3 linked regions of the Homo sapiens genome follow. The protein of the gene in region 1 interacts with the protein of each later gene in a pairwise test. Each region holds a gene or a part of one and is shown on either strand. Other genes may lie near its edges.

The links.
Region 2: the proteins of PTPN9 (region 1) and TMCO2 interact in binary tests that used the Homo sapiens proteins (3 or more experiments, as listed by UniProt).
Region 3: the proteins of PTPN9 (region 1) and SLC7A1 interact in binary tests that used the Homo sapiens proteins (3 or more experiments, as listed by UniProt).

The regions. Positions count from the first base shown.
Region 1 is NC_000015.10:75,520,311-75,527,336, reverse strand, and holds part of PTPN9 (tyrosine-protein phosphatase non-receptor type 9), read left to right. Parts: intron 1-75; coding exon 76-219; intron 220-3,038; coding exon 3,039-3,128; intron 3,129-4,091; coding exon 4,092-4,216; intron 4,217-7,026. UniProt on the Homo sapiens protein: Protein-tyrosine phosphatase that could participate in the transfer of hydrophobic ligands or in functions of the Golgi apparatus.
Region 2 is NC_000001.11:40,243,621-40,250,941, forward strand, and holds the start of TMCO2 (transmembrane and coiled-coil domain-containing protein 2), read left to right. Parts: upstream 1-4,316; 5' UTR 4,317-4,373; coding exon 4,374-4,610; intron 4,611-7,321.
Region 3 is NC_000013.11:29,508,909-29,515,709, forward strand, and holds the end of SLC7A1 (high affinity cationic amino acid transporter 1), read right to left. Parts: intron 5,676-6,801; coding exon 5,572-5,675; 3' UTR 506-5,571; downstream 1-505. UniProt on the Homo sapiens protein: High-affinity, low capacity permease involved in the transport of the cationic amino acids (arginine, lysine and ornithine) in non-hepatic tissues.

The DNA.
Region 1 (7,026 bases):
TTTCACTTGTTTGTTTTTTGACTCCATAAATATGCTCTCTTCTTACTAATTATTCTTTCTTTCTTTGTCAAACAGGCTACCAAGCAGTTTCTCGAAGAGATTAACAAGTGGACAGTTCAGTACAATGTTTCCCCGCTGTCTTGGAATGTGGCTGTCAAGTTCCTCATGGCAAGGAAGTTTGATGTGCTCCGTGCCATAGAATTGTTCCACTCCTACAGAGTATGTGGCTCAGGGGTAGACCAGACCTGTGGCAGTTGGGTTAAGTGTTGCTGTTGTCCCTGTCATGCTCGACACACACATTGGTTCTCTAAGTGTTCCTCCTCACTTTCATAAAAAATGGATCCATATCCAGGAGCCCTTGTGAGAGCTGAAGCTGGGCAAGGCAGCTACTGGAAGGCACTACTTTTGTACCTAAGTTTTGATCGTAGACCAGGATGCCACATCTAATGATTGAGACGGAGGAAGTAGCCTGACAGCATCCTGGTGGCAGGATAGGGGTTCACCCTTCCTAGAGTTTTAATCCTAGCTCTTTTCATTGGCCTCTGGCCACATGAAAATCTTGGTTTTCAGGTTGTCTAAGGCTTTTAGAAACTTGCCATTCAGATGAATGATGAGCTTAGTGGGCAGTTCAGGAAGGGAAGTTTTAACACTGGAAAAGAAGAGCAACTGTGTATTAGCTAGGTCCATTATCTTAAAGTATCTTTATGCAAATGTAGCGGCATCAGGATTTTACTTTGTTTTGATTTTTGTTTTTTGAGGGGGCATAGACTTTGGTTTTGTGCTTGTTTGCTTTCTCAGTTAGTAGTGTCTTTGATAAAACACTATACAGCATGTTACTTTGGGGTCAGAATCCTTCTAAAGAAATACAAAATCTCCCTAAAAAAAAAAATTGGGATAACAAGCACTAGGATTAGCTTAACTGAAGTTTGGTTACATCTGTCTTGTGGACCAGCTCATTCAATATTCATTCATTTACTCAACAGATACTTATTTTATACTTACTGTGTTCCAGGTGCAGAGATTACTATTTAGAAAGAGAGACTAGGGCTGGGTGCGGTGGCTCATGCCTGTAATCTCAGCACTTTGGGAGGCCAAGGCAGGTGGATCACTTGAGGTCAGGAGTTTGAGACCAGCCTGAACAAAATGGCAAAACCGCATCTCTACTAAAACTACAAAAATTAGCTGGGTGTAGTGGCACCTGTATTCCCAGCTACTCGGGAGGCTGAGGAGGGACAATCACTTGAACCAAGGAGGTGGAGGTTGCAGTGAGCCGAGATCACACCATTGCATTCCAGTCTGGGCAACAGAGTGAGACTGTTTAAAAAAAAAAAAAAGAAAGAGAAAATAAACAAAGAGTTGTAGAAATGTTATGATAAGGCAGCACTGGATTCTGTGGAAGCACTTTTTTTTTTGAGACAGAGTCTTGCTGTGTCTCCCAGACTGAAGTGAAGTGGCATGATCTCAGCTCACTGCAGATCTCTGCCTCCTGAGCTCAAGTGATCCTCCCACCTCACCTTAGCCTCCCGAGTAGCTGGGACCACAGGCATGCACCACCATACCTGGCTAATTTTTTGTATTTTTAGTAGAGACGGGGTTTTGCTATGTTGCCCAGGCTGGTCTCGAACTCCTGAGCTCAAGTGATCCACGCACCTCGGCCTCCCAAAGTACTGGGATTACAGGCATGAGCCACCGTGCCCAGCCTAAGAGGTTTAAAACAAGCGGTTGATGAAATAAGACAAACCAAGATAATATTTTTTTGTTATCGGTATATAAAGGTAGAGAATGTCTCCGGAAAAAGGAAGTGTAGGTGGTCAACCTTGTCATTTAAGAGGAGAACTGAAGAGGCTGGGCGCGGTGGCTCATGCCTGTAATCCCAGCACTTTGGGAGGCCGAGGCGGGTGGATCGCTTCAGCCCAGGAGTTGGAGACCAGCCTGGGCAACATGGCAAAACCCCGTCTCTACTAAAAACACAAAAATTAGCCAGGCATGGTGGCACGTGCCTGTAATCCCAGCTACTCAGGAGGCTGAGGCAAGAGAATCTCTTGGACGTGGAGGTTGCAGTGAGCCAAGATCATGCCACTGCACTCCAGCCTCAGCAACAGTGTGAGACTTGGTCTCAATTAAAAAAAAAAAAAGAATCTGGCCATCAGGGTGAGGAAAATGAAGTCATGGTAGCTGCTGTTGGAGACAATATCAGGTGGAGAGAAGGCTCCTATTTAAACATAGGAGAGGCCTAAACCTAGAAAATATGTGAGAACGTAGGCATCCAGACATTTTTGAGGTCCATATTTTAGTGTCCTGGTACCATGTCAGTGCTGCTGCGTGTTTAAGAACCTTGATCCTGCACCTGAATGTAACATACTGGTTACTCTTCAGGGTTAGGGTTCTTACTGAGTCAGAGAAAAATACCCTACCTGAGGGGCTGATAAAGTAGCTTTGGACAGGAATTCCGAAAATGCTTGACTGGCTTGGAGGCAGGTTACAAAGAAATTCATAATTCATTTAGTTGACTTCATTATTCATTTAGCTGAATTCTTTTTTTTTTTTTTTTTTTTTTTTGAGACAGAGTCTCATTTTGTCACCCAGGCTGGAGTGCAGTGGTGCTGTCTTGGCTTACTGCAACCTCCACCTTCTGGGTTCAAGCGATTCTCCTGCCTCAGCCTCCTGAGTAGCTGGGATTATGGGCGCGCACCACCATGCCAGGCTAATTTTTGTATTTTTAGCCGAGACAAGGTTTCACCATGTTGGCCAGGCTGCTCTCGAACTCCTGACCTCAGGTGACCTGCCCGCCTTGGCCTCTCAAAGTGGTGGGATTACAGGCGTGGGCCACTGCGCCCGGCCCATTTAATTGAATTCTAATTCAACTAAATGAAGTAGAATTGGTTATGAAATTAGTTACAAAATTTATTTAGTTATGAAATTTATAATTCATTCATTCATTGATAACCACCTTATCTCTGAGATTTGGTGGTTACATGGTGCTGTCCTGGATATACAGTATTTTCATATTAATACATTTTGCTGTGCTTCCTTTTTAGGAAACTCGAAGGAAGGAAGGCATTGTAAAGCTGAAACCTCATGAGGAACCTCTTCGTTCTGAGATCCTCAGTGGAAAATTCACCATCTTAGTGAGTGTTTAGGGACCTATCTTGTAGGGCCTTATTACTTCCTTTTTTAACTGGTGTCCTGTTTGGACTTTGTTTTTTTTTTTTTTTTTTTAATTTTATTATTATTATACTTTAAGTTTTAGGGTACATGTGCACAACGTGCAGGTTTGTTACATATGTATACATGTGCCTTGTTGGTGTGCTGCACCCATTAACTCGTCATTTAGCATTAGGTATATCTCTTAATGCTATCCCTCCTCCATCCCCCCCTGTTTGGACTTTGTTCCTATATACCTTATCCTGAATCTAGAGAGTCTCCACAGTTAGGAGCAGATGTGAAACAGCCATGCAGTTTGGTATAAAATTATTTTAGTAACAATTGAATTACTAATAGTTTCTAGTAATTAGAGTTACTAATGATAATTGAATAATTGAATTATGGAAAATCAGTTGTACAGTAGACTTAGAAAAGTTTCTTCAGTTGGTCCATTAAGGTTAGTCATGGTCTTTGGGAGAGATATGCAATGTGTCAGACACCCATGCTTCCATATTTAACGCAAGCTCTCCACTTAGTTGAGACCTCAGCCTTTCAAGTAAACATACAATGGCACTTTTAAGGCAGAGGGTGGAAATCATGGTCCTGTTCCCTGGTTCTCTCCTGCTGCTTGTTTCTTTTGCCATTCTGCCAGGGAAGTTAGCTAGGAAGCCAGTGCACAGCCATCCTTTGATCTGTCTGTAGTTGAAGAGCAAAGAGAATGTGTTTTTTTTTTCTTACCACAGAAATATGGTCCAGGGAGTCCTGGGAGAATCAGACAAAGGATGATATTAACACTCTTCCCTTTGGACAGCAATTGGTGAAGTCAGGGAATTATTGTTAGCATCTGTTTTCTACATGTATCAAACCCTTATCCAGTATATAAGTCTTAGTAATTGCTGTGATTTTCTATTTGATTTTTTTAATGTTTCTTGTTTTATTTGCTTTAGAATGTTCGGGACCCAACAGGAGCCTCCATTGCCCTCTTTACTGCCAGGTTGCATCATCCCCACAAGTCAGTCCAACATGTGGTACTTCAGGCTCTGTTTTACTTGCTAGACAGAGCTGTGGATAGGTAAGCATTGAGATTATTTTTTAGGTATTCTACATGCAGGTAGGAAAGTGACAGTTTTTTACTTGATTAAATTCAGCAGTGCCTTCGCCATTCTCCTAGGATGTGCCCTGGGCAATGCTATGAATAGAAAACAATCCATGTCCTTTAGAACTCGGCATGTTTGCAGGCACTATCAAGATGGTGGGCGTTCTCTTTACCACCTTGGCTCTATGTCAGGAAAACAGAAGCTGAGAAAGTCAATTATCGGCAATCTTCAGTGTATGGAAAACTACTTATTGGAAAAGAATGAGGGGGAGATGACCTGTGCTGGTTCTTTTTGCTCATATCAGAACCTCTAAGGCCTCAGTTTCTTTGTCTGCATAACAGGAATAATGCCGTTTAGTTCAGAGGATTTTGAGACTCAACATTCAGGGGAGGGCTGGGTGCAGTGGCTCACACCTGTAATCCCAGCACTTTGGGAGGCTGAAGCAGGTGGATTGCTTGAAGCCAGGAGTTGAGACCAGCCTGGACAACATGGTGAAACCCTGTCTCTGATAAAAAATACAAAAAATTAGCTGGGTGTGGTAGCGTGCACCTTTAGTCCCAGCTTCTTGGGGGAGGTGGGGGAGGTTGCTGAGGTGGGAGGATCACTTGAGCCCAGAATGGTGAAGCTGTAGTGAGCCATGATCACGCCACTGCATTCCAGCCTGGGTGACACAGCAAGACCTGTCTCAAAAAAAACCCCACAAAAAAGCCCACACAAAACAAACAACAACAACAAAAAAACATTCAGGGAGAAGCCCAGAAGTATAAAGTTAAGCAAAAACCATCCTTAATAAAAAGAGGTGCATAAGCATAAAGAACCAGCTCAGGTCATCACTCTCTTCCTGCTAAGGTAATTGGTATTGTTACAATTCAATTGACAATTAAACTCAAGCCCCAAGAAGTTTTTTACAGTCATCATATGTTAGTCCAGCTGGTTCTAAGATCCTGGTTTCTTCACTCTTGGGCAGAGTTATTTCTGTCCTCCCATGCTGTTGTTCTGCTATTCCTTTTTCCCTGGTGCTTGTAATTTACAGTTTCTTACTGCTCTCGACATCTTTGGCTGGTCCTCCGGATTAGAAGTGCTATATTGAGGCCAGGCGCATTGATTCATGCCTGTAATCCTAGCACTTTGGTTGGCTGAGATGGGCAGATTGTCTGAGCCCGGGAGTTTGAGACCAGCCCTGGGCAACATGATGAATCCACTCGCTTCTTGAGGGCAGGAAACTTTCTTTTTAACATCCGAATCTCTGTAGGTTGAGAGAGAATGGTATCGTGAACATCCACATATCCATCATCCGTCTTCTTCAAAGTGATCTGTAACAGTCTTGTTTCATTGGTAGCCCCTCATGGATCTCCTATCCTCAGTTTCTTTCTTTTTTGTTTTTTGAGACTAGGGCTTGGTTTGTCACCCAGGCTGGAGTGCAGTAGCATGATTGTAGCTCACTGCAGTCTTGAACTCCTGGACTTAAGCAATCCTCCCATCTCGGCCTCCCAAAATGCTGGGATTACAAGCATAAGCCATTGCATCTGGCTTCTCCGTTTTTTTAAAACCAATGTCAGGGACTGTATTTTAAACTTCTTGGTGTTTTCTGTAACATGTAGCTCAAGAATTAAAAAAATATTTTTTTTATTTTTTTTTTCCTTTGAGACGGAGTCTCGGTCTGTCCCCCAGGCTGGAGTGCAGTGGCGCTATCTCAGCTCGCTGCAAGCTCCGACTCCCGGGTTCGTGCCATTCTCCTGCCTCAGCCTCCCGAGTAGCTGGGACTACAGGCGCCTGCCACCACGCCCGTTTTTTTTTTTTTTTTTTGTATTTTTAGTAGAGATGGGGTTTCACCTTGTTAGCCAGGATGGTCTCGATCACCTGAGCTCGTGATCCACCCACCTCAGCCTCCCAAAGTGTTGGGATTACAGGCGTGAGCCACCGTGCCCGGCCCATTGTAAATCTTAAACTGGGTGCAGTGGCTCATGCCTGTAATCCCAACACTTTGGGAGGCCAGGTGAGAGGATCGCTTGAGCCCAGAAGTTCGAGACCAGCCTGGGCAACATAGCAAGGCCTCGTCTCTACAAAAAGTTTAAAAATTAGGCAGCCAGGCATGGTGGTATTTGCCTGTAGTCCCAGACACTCACGGAAGGCTGAACTGGGAGGATCACCTGAGCCCTGGGAGGATCACCTGAGCCCTGGGAGGATCATCTGAGCCCTGGGAGGTCGAGGCTACAGTGCGCCATGATTGTGCCACTGCACTACAGCATGGGCAACAGAGTAAAATGCTGTCTTAAAAATATATATATTCTGGTGGCTCACGCGTGTAGTCCCAGCACTTTGGGAGTCCAAGGGGGTGGATCTCCTGAGGTCGGGAGTTTGAGACCAGCCTGGCCAACATGGTGAAACCCCGTCTCTAGTAAAAATACAAAAAATTAGCCAGGCGTGGTGGTGGGTGCCTGTAATCCTAGCTACTCGAGAGGCTGAGGCAGGAGAATCACTTGAACTTGGGCGGAGGTTGCAGTGAGCAGAGATCGCACTATTGCACTTCAGCCTGGGCAACAAAAGCGAACTCTGTCTCAAAAAAAAAAAAGTATATGTATATATATACACACATATATAAACACACACACATCTATCTATCTATCTATCTATCTATCTATCTATCTATCTATCTATTCTATACCCTAAAGTGTGAAAATCTTACTGCATTCATGTTTTATGTGCCTTCACAGGATGAGCACTTTGATCTGGGAATATAGAACCTGGATCATTCATTATGCATCCAAGCTTCTTTTTTTTTAAA
Region 2 (7,321 bases), on another chromosome or scaffold:
AAGCTTTTTCAATTCAAGAGTGCCTCCAAAATGGTGAGTAGGAATGAAGACTTCCAGACACTTCTATTCTTGCCTTTACCCAGAATTCTCTTGCTTCAGTGTTTTCCCCATTTTCATGAGCCCATGTGTGAAATAGGGTAAGGAACTGTGGAGGAGAAAGTTTTTTATTAGCCTTCCTCAGGGTATTCCATTCTCAATCTATCCTTTCTCAGTCCCAAAAGGCCTACTGAGCTGAACTGCCTAAGACATAATCATTCACCAAATATTTAAATACACACATTTAAAGAGATACAATTCCAGATGCAATGGGAGACAAAAAAAAAAAAAAGTTGTCAGGGCCATCAAGAAGCTTTCACAAGGTGAAGGGAGGGCTGGAGTATCTCAGAACATTGTTACTTAAAGTGTGGTAGTGGGCCAGCAGTATAGGTGTCACCTAGGAGATTGTTATTAATAAAAATGCATAAATTCAGGCCCTACTCCAGACCTACTGGACCAAAATGTGCGTGTTAGTAAGATCTCCAGGTGATTCTTAGGCACAGAAAAGTTCTAGAAGCACTGGCCTGGAAGTGGAAAGTACTGTGAGAATTCAGGGTAATTGTGCTTTTTAGCATTTTACATAAAATTATGTTGTTGAATTTTCATAATCCTATGAAGTAGGTGCTGTTACTATATTTGACAAAGAACGAGATGAAGTGTCTTGCCTGGCTGGCACAAATAGAGGTGGAGCCCAGTTTCCAATCTCTTCTGACTAGAAGAATGTCAGAGAGGGACATTTAGTGTAAAGGAATAACAGATGGAAAGTTGCAGGTGGTATTTGAAGTACCAAAAATACCACAGTTCTGTAATGTGAGTGTTGTTTGTGAAGGTGAATAGTGGGAAATACAATTTGAAGTGTAGGTGAAAGCCAGGTTATTCAACTCAAACTCCACAGTCATATGGTGCTGACATTTCTTCATTTGAGTATAGAGATGGGAAACGTGCATATTTTTTTCTGTGAATAACATGTAACCTACGAAAAAGGCAAGTTTTCTTTTCTGAAAGAAACTTACTCATTTTTGTTATTTTTTGAGGCGAGGTCTCATTAGGTTGCCCAGGCTGATCTTGAACTCCTGAGCCCAAGCAATCTTCCCACCCCAGCCTCCCAAAGTGCTGGAATTGCGGGCATGAACCGCTGCACCCGGCCAGAAACTTCTAAAACTCAGAAAAGTTGCTCCTCCTCACCTCCTACCCCAAGGTAAACTGTGATACCTCCTGGCTTTATACTACTGATTTTATACCCTATTATATAGAACTGTGTCTAGAGAGAGTGGCCTATCCCTCTGTGACCTTCTTGGTCTACTCCTGCAGGAGTGGCTTCTGTGACAGACTGCATTTGGAGGTTTGATTCACTCTGGGGAAGGTAACCAGGATAGGCAAGAGATTTAAAAATCTGTCAGCATGTATTTGACAGGTATAACCTGAAAAAAAAGACCAGAGGCGTAGGAAAGCTATCTAAATGGTTAAGAAGCCAAATATTTACAAAGCATATACCATCTGCTAGCCCCTGGGTGGTAGGTGTTGAACAAGACTCATTTCCTGCATCATAGAGATTTAAGAATCCAGTAAGGGACTGGGTGCGGTGACTCATGCCTGTAATCCCAGCACTTTGGGAGGCACAGGCAGGAGGATATTTGAGGTCAGGAGTTTGAGACCAGCCTGGCTAACATGGTGAAACCCTGTCTCTACTAAAAATACAAAAATTAGCCGCGCTGTAGTGGTGCATGCGCCTGTAATCCCAGATACTAGGGAGGCTGAGGCAGGAGAACCGCTTGAACCCAGGAGGCACAGGTTGCGGTGAGCCAAGATCAGGCCACTGCACTCCAGCCTGGGCAACAGAGTGAGACCCTGTGCCCCCAACCTCCCCACCCCCAACAAAAAAAATAATCCAGTAGGGAAGACAGACATTAAAACAGTACAAATAATAAAGTAAAAGTGCTTTTAAACAGGGGGGGTGGAGGGGCTTATGAGAAGGGGACCAAAAAAGGACAGCAAAAGCTTCATTGAGGATAATGTTTAAACTGAAACCTAAAGAATCAATAGAAGTTAGCCAGGCAATAATCTGTAGTCCCAGCTACTCGGGAGGCTGAGGTAGGAGGATCACTTGAGCCCAGGAGTTAGAGGCTGTACTGTGCAATAATCGCACCTGTGAATAGGCATTGACCTCCAAGCTGGGGGAGGAGGGGGAAGCTAGGCAAAGAACAAGAGTAATCCAATTATGTGCCAAAGCTTTGTGGTTCAACAGCTTGGTGTGTTGGTGACATTGATAAGACTACTATAGCTGGAGTTGAAAGAACAAATGGCAGAGGAAGAGAAGACTTGGTAGGTAAGCAGGGACCAGGCATTTTAGTGCCCTGTTAGCCATGTTACAGATTTTGGATTTTGTTTGAAAGACAATGAAGAACCTATAAGAATTTTTCAAAGGCGGACTGGGTGCTATTTCTCATGCCTGTAATCCCAGCACTTTAGGAGGGCAAGGTAGGAGGATCACCTGAGATCAGGAGTTCGAGACCAATCTGGCCAATATGGTGAAACCCCATTTCTACTAAAAATGCAGAGATCAGCCAGGCGTGGCACGTGCCTGTAGTCCCAGCCACTCAGGAGGCTGAGGCAGGAGAATCGCTTGAACCCAGGAGGCAGAGGTTGCAATGAGCTGAGATCGCACCACTGCACTCCAGCCTGGGCAACAGAGCGAGACCCTGTCTCAAAAAAAAAAAAAAAAAGAATTTACCAAAGGCTTGAAAGTAGGCATTGCCTAAGTCAGTAAGTCCTAATAGGGCATGATATGGAAGACTACTGAGTGGAAGTGACTGACAGATGAGTGGGTGGATGCCACTATTAAAGGTAAACTGAAGGCCGAGTGTGGTGGTTCACGCCTGTAATCCCAGCACTTTGGGAGGCCTAGGCGGGTGGATCACGAGGTCAGGAGTTCGAGACCAGCCTAACCAACATGGTAAAGCCCCGTCTCTACTAAAAATAAAAAAATTAGCCAGGCGTGGTGGCACATGCCTGTAATCCCAGCTACTCAGGAGGCTGAGCCAGGAGAATCGCTTGAACCCCAGAGGCAGAGGTTGCAGTGAGCCAAGATTGCGCCACTGCACTCCAGCCTGGGAGACAGGGCGAGACCAAAACCCCGCCTCAAAAAAAAAAAAAAAAAAAAAAAAAAAAAAAAAAAAAAGCCCTGTTTATATCCTACCTCCTTGCTGGGTGCAGTGGCTCATGCCTGTAATCTCTGCACTTTGGGAGGCCAGGGCAGGTGGATCACTTGAGGTCAGGCATTCTAGACCAGCCTGGCCAAAATGGTGAAACCCCATCTCTACTAAAAATACAAAAAATTAGCCAGGCGTGGTGGCGGGCGCCTGTAATCCCAGCTACTCAGGAGGCTGAGGCAGGAGAATCGCTTGAACCTAGGAGGCATAGGTTGCAGTGAGCTGAGATCGCACCACTGCACTCCAGCCTGGGCGACAGAGTGACACGCCAGCTCAAAAAAATAAAAATAAAAAATCCCATCTCCTCACATTTCCATTCAACCTCAATACAACTCAGTTTTTTTTATTATGTGAAAACAGCTGCAACAGCTGCTGTCCATTTGAATTGTTGGAAATGTAGATCTACACTAACCAAGAGAGAAGCCACTAGCCACAGGTGGCTATTTAACTTTTTTTTTTTTTTTTTTAGATGGAGTCTCGTTCTGTCACCAAGGCTGGAGCACAACATCAGCTCACTGCAACCTCTGCCTCCCAGGTTCAAGTGATTCTCCTGCTTCAGCCTCCCAAGTAGCTGGGACTACAGGTGTGCACCACCACGTCAGGCTAATTTTTGTATTTTTAGTAGAGACAAGATTTCACCATGTTGGCCAGGCTGGTCTCGAACTCCTGGGCTCAAGTGATCCACCTGCCTCAGCCTCCCAAAGTGCTGGGATTACAGGCGTGAGCCACCATGCCCAGCCAAATTTAGTTAAAATGTAAAATGCAATCTCTGCTGCACTATTCACATTTCAGGTAACTAGTGGTTACCATATTGGACATGGCAGATAAAGAACATTTTCATTATTGCAAAAAGTTGTACTGGACAGCACTATGCTAGAGCCAGAACTAGCCAAAGATCAGACAAAGCAATATGAATGAACTGAAAACCCAGGCCGGTGCCTGGTTGGTTTTGAGTAAGATTCATTGGTTGGGTGAGTGGGAAGCAAGCTGACCTTTGGAACAGTGACATCACAAAGCACAGCTCACAATGGCTCTGGAATACCTAGGCCTCCAGACTACTCCCCCTAACTCATATTTAGATTCCTGAAGCTTCTGCACATGTAGTTCCTAGAGCTGCTGCTTATTAAAATGTCAACATCTTCATCTTCTAGCTGGGACAACCTCTTAGAGTCTCTCTCTCTCAGCACAGTATGGAATTGGATACAAGCAAGTTTTTTGGGAGAGACTAGTGCACCTCAGCAAACAAGTTTGGGACTATTAGATAATCTTGCTCCAGCTGTGCAAATCATCTTGAGGATTTCTTTCTTGATTTTATTGGGAATAGGAATATATGCCTTATGGAAACGAAGTATTCAGTCAATTCAGGTTATACTCTTTTGTTACAAACATTTATATAGTTATAAATTGAAATTTGATTAGTTCTCTCCCATATTGCTGCCACCAGTTTTAAGATCATGCAGATGTGCAAAGGCGAACCTTTGTCTCTTAAGTTGGCAAAAACTAGGTTATCCTTGAAAATCTCCACCAATTAGGCTTTGGGCATAAAAATGCTTTTCTCACAATGGTCTTTGGCTTGTCTTCTGTAATAAAATAGACCAAACATGTTGGTAACCTGAAAAGACAGCCTTACCCTCAAAAATTTTTGATCACTTATTCATCTTTGAGTGCTACTATGTTTATACAATAGGCACCAAAGTAGCTAGGATCATGAGTATGGCCTTTCTTACTATGCCATTGTTCTGTAACTGATAAGGAGGCATATGTATTAAGTCATCACAATGTGTTCATTATTGTGTTTTGACAAGATAAGGCTCCATAAGTATATAGGAGCTCTTTGGGGAGTAGGAATTTAACTGGCTGGGATTGTGAGAGACAGGATTTTACATACTTCTGTGTAGTCACCAATAATAATAGTTGACATACAATATAGTTGAATGCTTTGAGAATCTCAAAAATTCCATGAAATGGATGGAGATTATTTTCACATGACAAGTGAAGAAACTGAGGTGCACTGAGGTTCAGTGGAAACTTAAGGTGACAGGCTTTTAAAACGGCTTTCTTAGAGTGACAAGTTTACTTGATAAATGCAGAGAGAAGTTGTTATTGGATCATTTTTTAGCATTCACTTATTTTCATATGTCACTATTGTTTAGTAATCATGGTCACGGGGCCTTTCTATTTTAAACCATCACAATCCTGCATAACAGTCAGGGAGAGATTATTTGCTCCATTTTGTAGATGAGAGAACTTGATTGCTACCCACCCAAGTTCACATAGTTTGTAAGAGCTGGCAAAATTGGAGTTTGAATCGAATTTTTAGGATTTGAAATTCAGTTCTTCTCCAAAATCTCATTTAATGCAAACCAACTGACCTAAATCTTGAACAGGAATGTGTGTGTGTGTGTGTGTGTGTGTGTGTGTGTGTGTGTGTGTGTGTACGCGCATGCGCATATATATGTGTATTGTGAGGATTAAAGAAGATATTGTATGTGTAAATCTTAGCACATATATTCAATAAGTGGTGCTACAGTGAAACCCCATCTCTACTTAAAATACAAAAATTAGCCGGGTGTGGTGGTGGCACGCGCCTGTAGTCCCAGCTACTCAGGAGGCTGAGGCAGAAGAATTGCTTGAACCCGGGAGGTGGAGGTTGCAGTGAGCCAAGATCGTGCCACTGCACTCCAGCCTGGGCGACAAAGACTGTGTCTCAAAAAAAAAAAAAGTGGTGCTAGTTGTTATAATAAGGAACAAGATGATTTTTTTTCTTATCCTAGCAAGAATCTGTCCTACTATACATATTCTTTTGTTATTTATTTATTTATTTTGAGATGAAGTCTTGCTCTTGTCCCCTAGTCTGGAGTGCAATGGTGCAATTTCGGCTCACTGCAACCTCTGCCTCCCAGGTTCAAGCAATTCTCCTGCCTCACCCTCCCGAGTAGCTGGGATTACAGGCGCATACCACCACACCCAGCTAATGTTTTGTATTTTAAGTAGAGACAGGGTTTCACCATGTTGGCCAGGCTGGTCTCGAACTCCTGACCTCAGGTGATCCGCCCACCTTGGCCTCCCAAAGTGCTGGGATTACAGGCATGAGCCACCGTGCCCAGCATATGCTTTATTTTTATTTTTTATTTTTTTTTTATGTTTTAGAGACAGTGTCTTGCTCTGTCGCCCAGGCTGGAGTGCAGTGGTGTCATCATAGCTCACTGCAGCCTCAAATTCCTGATCTCAGGTGATCCTCCTGCCTCAGCCTCCTGAGCAGTTGGAACCATAGGCATGCACCACCAGGCTTGGCTAATTTTAAAAATTTTTTTGTAGAGACAGGGTCTCGCTACGTTCACTATGTTGCTCAGGCTGGTCTTTAACTCCTGGCCTCATGCAATCCTCCCATCTCAGCCTCTCAAAGTGCTGGATGCAGTGGTCCACACCTATAATTTATTTTATATAAATAAAATATATATATATATACATTAATTTTTTTAAGAGACAGGGTCTGGCTATCTTGCCCAGGCTGAAGTGCAGTAGCCATTCACAGGTGCCATCATAGCACACTACTCCTGGGCTCAGGTGATCCTCCCACCTTACCCTCCCTAGTAGCTGGGACTATATGTGTGTGCCATTGTACCCAGATCTCTCCTAGTATATTTTAAAAACCTTTTCCATGACCAAGAAATCCAGTTTTTCAGACTACTATGTCCTAAAGTGTACTTGGAAGTGTGAATTTCTGGATTCCTGTCCTGGCTCTGCCACTTCCAATATATAACCTTGGACAATGACAGAGTTCAAACTAGAAGGTATATAGTTATCCAGTTGTGTTTTTTCTGCATAAATAGATCATGCAAAGGCAAAGTTACTTCCAGACATTCAGAAAATGGTTATCTATTATTACAATCTTGATTAAATGCAAATAATAATCCTGCCTGACCTGCCTACCTCTCCAGTTTGCAGTGAAAATCAAAAGATGAAATAGGTGTGAAAATATTTTGCTAAGGCCGGGCATGGTGGCTTACGCCTGTAATCCCAGCATTTTGGGAGGCCACGATGGGCGGATCACGAGGTCAGGAGATTGAGAACAT
Region 3 (6,801 bases), on another chromosome or scaffold:
TGGATCCTTTCTCAAGGGAGTTGAGGGAGTGAGATAGTAACAATTACCAGGATAGCTACACTCCCCGACAGCCCCTCCGCCCTGCATGCACTCTGCTCCCTCTAACAGGATAGTGTATGTGCAGGCCAGCACAGACTGGGGCGGCAACAGGTGAGGGCGTTTTGTTGCCAGAGACCAAGTCCTTCAGCAAATGCCTGACAACTGGCAGCCTCTGAGCTGCTTTATCCCAACAGCTTGGTTGGAAGGAAGACCTCTGTGGCCCCAAAGCCAAATAAATCTGCAGACAGTATCAGAGATCCAAAATGGGGGCTCAAGGGATTCTCTGGTTGAGGCTCAAATTGTTGGAATAAGGATTTTCCCCAAATGGCTACAGGAAAGTGAGAAGATAGGACTAAAGTCACGGGCTGTGGGGAAGCAGAGCGGGATCTGGAACTCTCCATGGGGCACTTCCAGGCCTGGGTCCCAGGAGAGACCCACTAGGATTCTTGAGATCACACCATGCACATGGAAGCCATAGAATTTATTCGAATTTGCAGAAGCATGAGATAATGTACCACAAAAGAGTTTGATTTTACAACATAAAGTATGGTAGGAAGTGGTCAATGTACACAGTGTTGTCAGCAAAAAGGGGAGGCAGGGCAGTTTCACATTTTTTGAAAGGTGGTGGACGACAACTACACTTGTCCTTAAAGTAAAATAAAAGCAGGAGAGACCCAGCAGAGACCAACCTGATTTGCAGTTAGCATCAGAATCTAAATCTAGTATCACAACTTTAAGAAACTAAAAGAAAACTATTAGAAAAATAGAACATCAAACAAGCAAAAAAATATACAAATGTACATAATAAAAAACACACAACTCTTAATAATGGCTCCATGTTCAGTAGAAGAAAATATTTACTGGAGAAACCACAGCTATTCAGGTTTGATAATAAACCAACCCTCATTGGTATCATTACCCTTAGTGCTCCTTAAACTCATTGAAGCTGAAAGGCACAACTTAAGCAGGAAACTTATCATCTTAAATATATATTATAACTTCTCAAATGGGAAAATAAGTCCCAAACTTAATAGTCTGTCATCAAGAAACACAAAATCATTTGCCTTGTTAATAAATTAACAGTCTGAGTGCATCTTTCCATCCTGCTTCCTGACCCTGCTGGACACACTAATAAATACCCTGAGAAAATCTTCTCTTTAAGCTTGGCCAAGGTACTCCATCTCCTGTGGGGTTTTCAGCTGGCACTCAGCACATTTGTAGAATGACCCAGGAGGGCTCCATGGCAACTGTGCCCCGAGACTCCAGGCCCAGCCGGGTCCCGATGGCGAGAGCGTTGTGGCTCAGTGAAGCACTGGCACAGAAAGGCTGGACTCGAGGAATCGAGGGGTGAAGATGGAGTCGGCTGACATTTTTTGCCTTAAAAATACATTAGGAGTCATAAGCGTGATGACACATGGAGTGTAGCTTCTTGCACCACTGGATCAACAGTAATCAATTTCATGACTCGGATAAGGTCCCCAGGAGCCTGGCAGAATGTACATCTCCCTCTCCCTTCAGAGCCTTACATATAATCTTCTCATGACGATGGCAAACAGATATATTTTAAATTACACGTAACAATTATACATAGTGTATATCCAGATCCGTCTGCAGGCGAACTCTGCATCAGTTCCACATATAAGCCTCACGCCCCCACCACCCTGCAATTTCCCCGTCCTCGGAACTGTCTCACGAGACCACCAGCGCACAGACACGAACATGCCTCTCACACACCCCAGAACGCAGCTGTGCTGGAGTTGGGCACAAAGGCCCCTCACTCCCTGTCTTCATGGTGTGGGTTCTTGGCTGCCAACAGAACTGTCAGCCTTTATTAAGAAGGAAGGGTCTGTGTAAAAATGGGATGTGTGAATCAGAAGAGGGGCCCTGGCACAGAGCCAGGCAGGCTTGCTTTAGCATTGAGTCCTGCGTCGCGCAATGCCCAGGACCTTGCCTGTTAAGTCTGGGTGGGGCCCCTATGGGGCATGTCCACGTGCCCCCCACCAGACTCATTGCCCTGTCTCCAGTCTCCACTGTGGGTTGGGCTGGAGGCCATGCCACGTGGGACTGCAAACACCAGCCAGTTCACAATGCCTGCTCCGTGGCAGGGGCACGGCAGGGAGGAGCTGGTATCATCAGCGTTTCCACCCATCTGAACAAAGGTGAGCGGGCCATGCACCCTTCCAGCTGTGCACAGGGATGTGCTGAAGGTGCAGGAGGCAGTGCGTCAGGGCCTTGGTGGCTGGGGTAGGTGGAGAAGCCCGCTGCCCCCACCATCCTGCGGTCACCCCTGGACTCGTATTGGATCCTGGCCACTGTGCTAGAGTCAGCACAAGGGACCAGGTGGCTGGCTGCCTGAGAGAGAAAATAAGTCACAGTGGAAAGAGTTTTTACTGCTGCAAAAACCAAAAGTGGGGGGAGATCTCAGCAATTCTGACAACAGTATACATTTAGCGACCTTTCTGAGACAGCCTGGGGAAAATGCATCTATCACTGTCCTCTTGATTTGGAAAAATAAATCCGATGCATAAAGCCTTGGACAAGGGTGTGTGAGCAGGGATGATAAGTAGAGTGGGGGGTGTGTAGAGGCCTGGTCTCCTCCGGACGGTGCCCCTCCCAACTGCAGAGCTGCCCTCCTGTAAGCCGGCTCCCGAGCCAGCTGCCAACAAGGCCCCCACTGCCTCCCTGGAGACCCACTTCATCCCCCTCTTCAGCAGAGGTCCTGAGGCAGGGGGGTGGAGATCTGCTGGGTTTGCTGCTTCATGAATTTGGGCCTTCGGAGGTCATGAACACATGCAGGGCAGTCACAGGGGTTGTGGGAGACAGGAAGGGATGTTTACCCATCACAAATGGGTCTTTCCAATGTGGGTATTTGTGGCTGGTGCACAGATAAAAGTAGACACAATACTCCTTGGTGGGTGTGCCTCTAGTAATGTGTAAGTTCTGACTATGTAGGAAAATCCTGGCCAGTGGAACTAAGAATATTCTTGTTTGGGCAAGGGAACTAAGAGATGTGAAACTATCATTTTTTTTTTGCTTGTGTGTATTTTTATTTCAGGGAAAGAAATGAGGGATATGATAAGAAAAAGTCTATTAAAATTGTAAGGCTTACTCCAGACACCATTGCTTAAATCACTCCCCTCTCACACAGAGAGAAAACCCCTGGCAAGTGCACAAAAACACTACTCATAAAAGCACGGTGACCAGTGAACTATTATGCAAGGCACCCCCACGTGTCCTTTCCTAACCAGGAAGCCCGTCCTCTAAGGAGGGGGCATGGGTCCCATCCCTGCCCAGCCTAGGCGTGCTTCTGTGTCCAGCTTTAAGGCCTCTGCGTGAGGAAGGCCACAGACTCCCAGCTGTCAGCACGCTGTCATGATGAGACTTGGAGCAGGGGAGACGCACCTTCTCAATCTACAAAATGAGCCATGGCGCCCATTAAAATGTCAAATGTCAACTCTAAATAGTCTATTGGGTGCTGTCTTGCACGGAAATCTCAGCCAGAAAGAAAAACTAGAGAAAAGAAAAAAAAGAAAAAAGCAATTCTCTCCCACCACTTCACTTTTCTTGGAGACTGTCTATCCCTCGAATTCTCTTTGCCTATGTAGAAAATAACGGAAAAAAAAATCAAGCAAATAACTACCAGGTCCTAAGACAAGAGACAACCAAAACCCCAACAAAATAAGTTAGTATTTATCAAAATATGTTACAACACCAATCTCCATAAATGTCAATATCACTCTTTGGAAATCGGAGCTCTGGGCTCTTATGATGCTCCCTCTGGAACATTCAAAATGAGATCAGAATAAAGCTCCCAGCAAGGTGAGCAGGCCTGATACGGAGGCTCAGCCCATGGCCATCCACCCGCCCTCCACCGCCGTGTTCACAAATTCTTGCACTTCTCTCCAAGAACCTTCTGGGGGCACAGGGAGGGTACAAGTGCCCTCAATTTATCAGGCTTCTTTCTACCAGATTTGTGTCAAAGGCCAGACTAGGAAGAAATGGAAAGGAAACTAAGTTTTGAAAGCAGCATTTCCATTTCCCCTGGTGTCCAAAATGCCCACATCCCTCCTCCTCCCCCATCAGCATGGGCCTTCTGTCTCCTGAAGTAGACTCAGTGGAACGCTCCACCCACGTTCAGGTTTCCTCTGGCTCCCATCTACAAGGAGTGTGTGTGAAATGGTGCTGGCCGCAGGCCCCGACCCAGGCAAGACGGGGGTGGCGTGCACTGGAGCTATGGGGGTGGGGAGGATGCTCGGGTCTCTCCCACTTGCAGAGGCGTGGGGTCCGAAGCATCCGGATGACAGATACACAAAAGGGACAGCAATATGCCTAGAAATCACCTCCCCTGCGACCCACGCATCTCAGCTATAGGACAGCCGCAGGGGTGATGACATGGCCATTTCCAAGTTAATGTTATGCCCTAACTTAATCTGGTGGAGTGTCACAATTTCATGGACTGTGGATTGATTTCAATTTCATCATGTCACAGAGAGGCCAGACAGCTTATGTCAGGGCCAGAAACGCATGACCCCGACATGTCCTGACCCCAGACTGAGCTGCCACCAGCCTTGAGAACCTTACAGGAGCCACCAGACTGGCTCCAAAGCATGGGAGGGCAAGACTGAGTGAACGGTGGCGACTCACAGGAAACAGACTTCTGACTCGGCCACCATGGGGCCAGTCCTGCAGATACTGTCTCATGTTCCAGTTACTCAGGACACAGCCAGTCGGGGGAGACGGCAGGAGCAGCAAGAACTGGCCCAGGCCTGGAGGCCGTGAGCTGAAGGTCCCTGGTTTACATGCATGTGCACACACATGCATAAGCAAAGCAGGCCCTAATGGGAGTGATCCCTTCTTCCTCATTTGAGTGGAGCCAGCTGCCCTCAGCCCCGGGCAGCTGTCATGGTGTCAGAGCAAAGCCCTGAGAAGCCAAGGGGCAGGCAGGGTCCGGCCCTAATGACCCATCTGAATGCAACCGGAGAAGGACAACAGGCCTGATTTTCCTTTTTAAGTGCACTACTGTCATTTGGCTCTGGGGTGGGGAGCTGCTGGGGACACACTGTTTTGTGGTACTCATCTGGCTTGATTGCTGGGTGTCTGGGGCTGAGCGGGAAGATGGCTGCGAAAGTTTGGAGTATGCACAATTTCAATCCCAGAACAGTCCCCGGGAGGAAGGCCTGGTTCCCAAGATAAGGAGAGAAGGTGACCTCCGTTCTGCCTGAGGCTGCGGCAGCTCGGGGCTGAGCTGGTAGGGGAGGAACTGCTTTGTTCAGAGAAGTGAGGAGACACAGTGGCCAGCCGCAGCCTAGTGGCCCCGGCCAGGCAGCTGTCTGGAGGTGACCAGGGCCCGGAGAACCGGCTGCAGAGCCGAGGGTGGGCTGGGGCTGCAGGTCAAGTAATTGCACCTTTGGCTGCAGTGAGGGTGTGGACGCAGGTGGTTTCTGTTGCACTGGTGGGGAGGGTGGGGTGCCTCCCGGTCCTCTGGGGGCGTCCCTCGGGGCTGCTGCCACCTCCGGGGGGCGGGGCTGTGCGTCACTTGCACTGGTCCAAGTTGCCGTCAGGAGTCCTTGCTTGGTCGGCATCCAGGGACGCCTCCTCGCTGTGCCACAGGCCATAGCCAAAGTAGATGATGAAGCCTGCGGGCCGACAGCAGAGACGGGCGTGAACAGACCGCCGGTTGCACCACCGCAGGCAGGGCTCAGAGCCCAGGGCGGTCCCACAGCAAACCCTCTCAGGCGGCCTGCCCCTGCCTGGCATGAGCCCGCAGCCAGCGGCCCCTGTGACCTTTCCACATCTGGAGCAGCTGCCACACGAAGGCCACTGTCTGCTTCGACATCTGGCAAAGCCCTACGTTCCTCTGGACGGCCTTATGCTGCGGTGTTTCCTGAGCAGACAGAGCAGCTGGGCCAGGGCCACCAGAGGCCATCGGGTCCTTCAGCTTAGCCCCCTGATGCCCCCGGAGGCCACGAGAGTATCGAGAATGTGCACTATGGAGATGGGGTTTCCCGCAGGTGCTGGAGGTCTCCAGGCTCTCAGCCTGGACAGTCCCACTGCCCATTTCTCCACATAACTGAGCGTCAGACTGCAGGAGACACTGAGCCCCAGGAATGGACTTCACATAGGAGTCCACAGCCTGTTCCTGCACACGGGACTCCAGGGTGGGTCCAGGACCTATGCTTCTTACCACCTGCCCAGGGGCTGGGGCCACCTTGTGTGGCTGACACAGGAAAACAGGCCTTAAAGCAAGGACTCAGCCACCCACAGCCCAGGAAAGGAGCTCAGGCTCCTGCACACAGGGACTTTGACAGGGATGCTGGGAAGAGGCGCCCCTCTGCCTTCACCAGGCCTGGAGGAAGTGGCCAGTGAGCTGTGAGCAGCTTTTTCTCAGAAAGGCTCTAGGAGACGTCTGTCTAACAGGCTGGACTTTGCAGGGAATGAGGACCCACCCGGCTGCCAGCAGACAGTGGGCCGCAAAGTATTTCCTGGAGGAAAAGCACCCCTCGAGGGCCCTGGGAGATGAGGCAGCAGCCATCTGCCCGTAGCATGCAAACTCAGGGCTGCGAGGCTGTAGGGACATGGTCCTGAGGGGCAATGGCCAGGGCCACTTTCCTGGCTATCAGCACTATGACTCAGATGCTGAGGGGAAGGAAATGAGATCCTCCCCTCCAGCCCCTGGGGTGAGATGCCCAGAGGCGTGGGACTACAGGCTGCACCCACCCCTGGTGATCTATCTCATGTGGAAGCTCCCCACCCTAGTGGCAT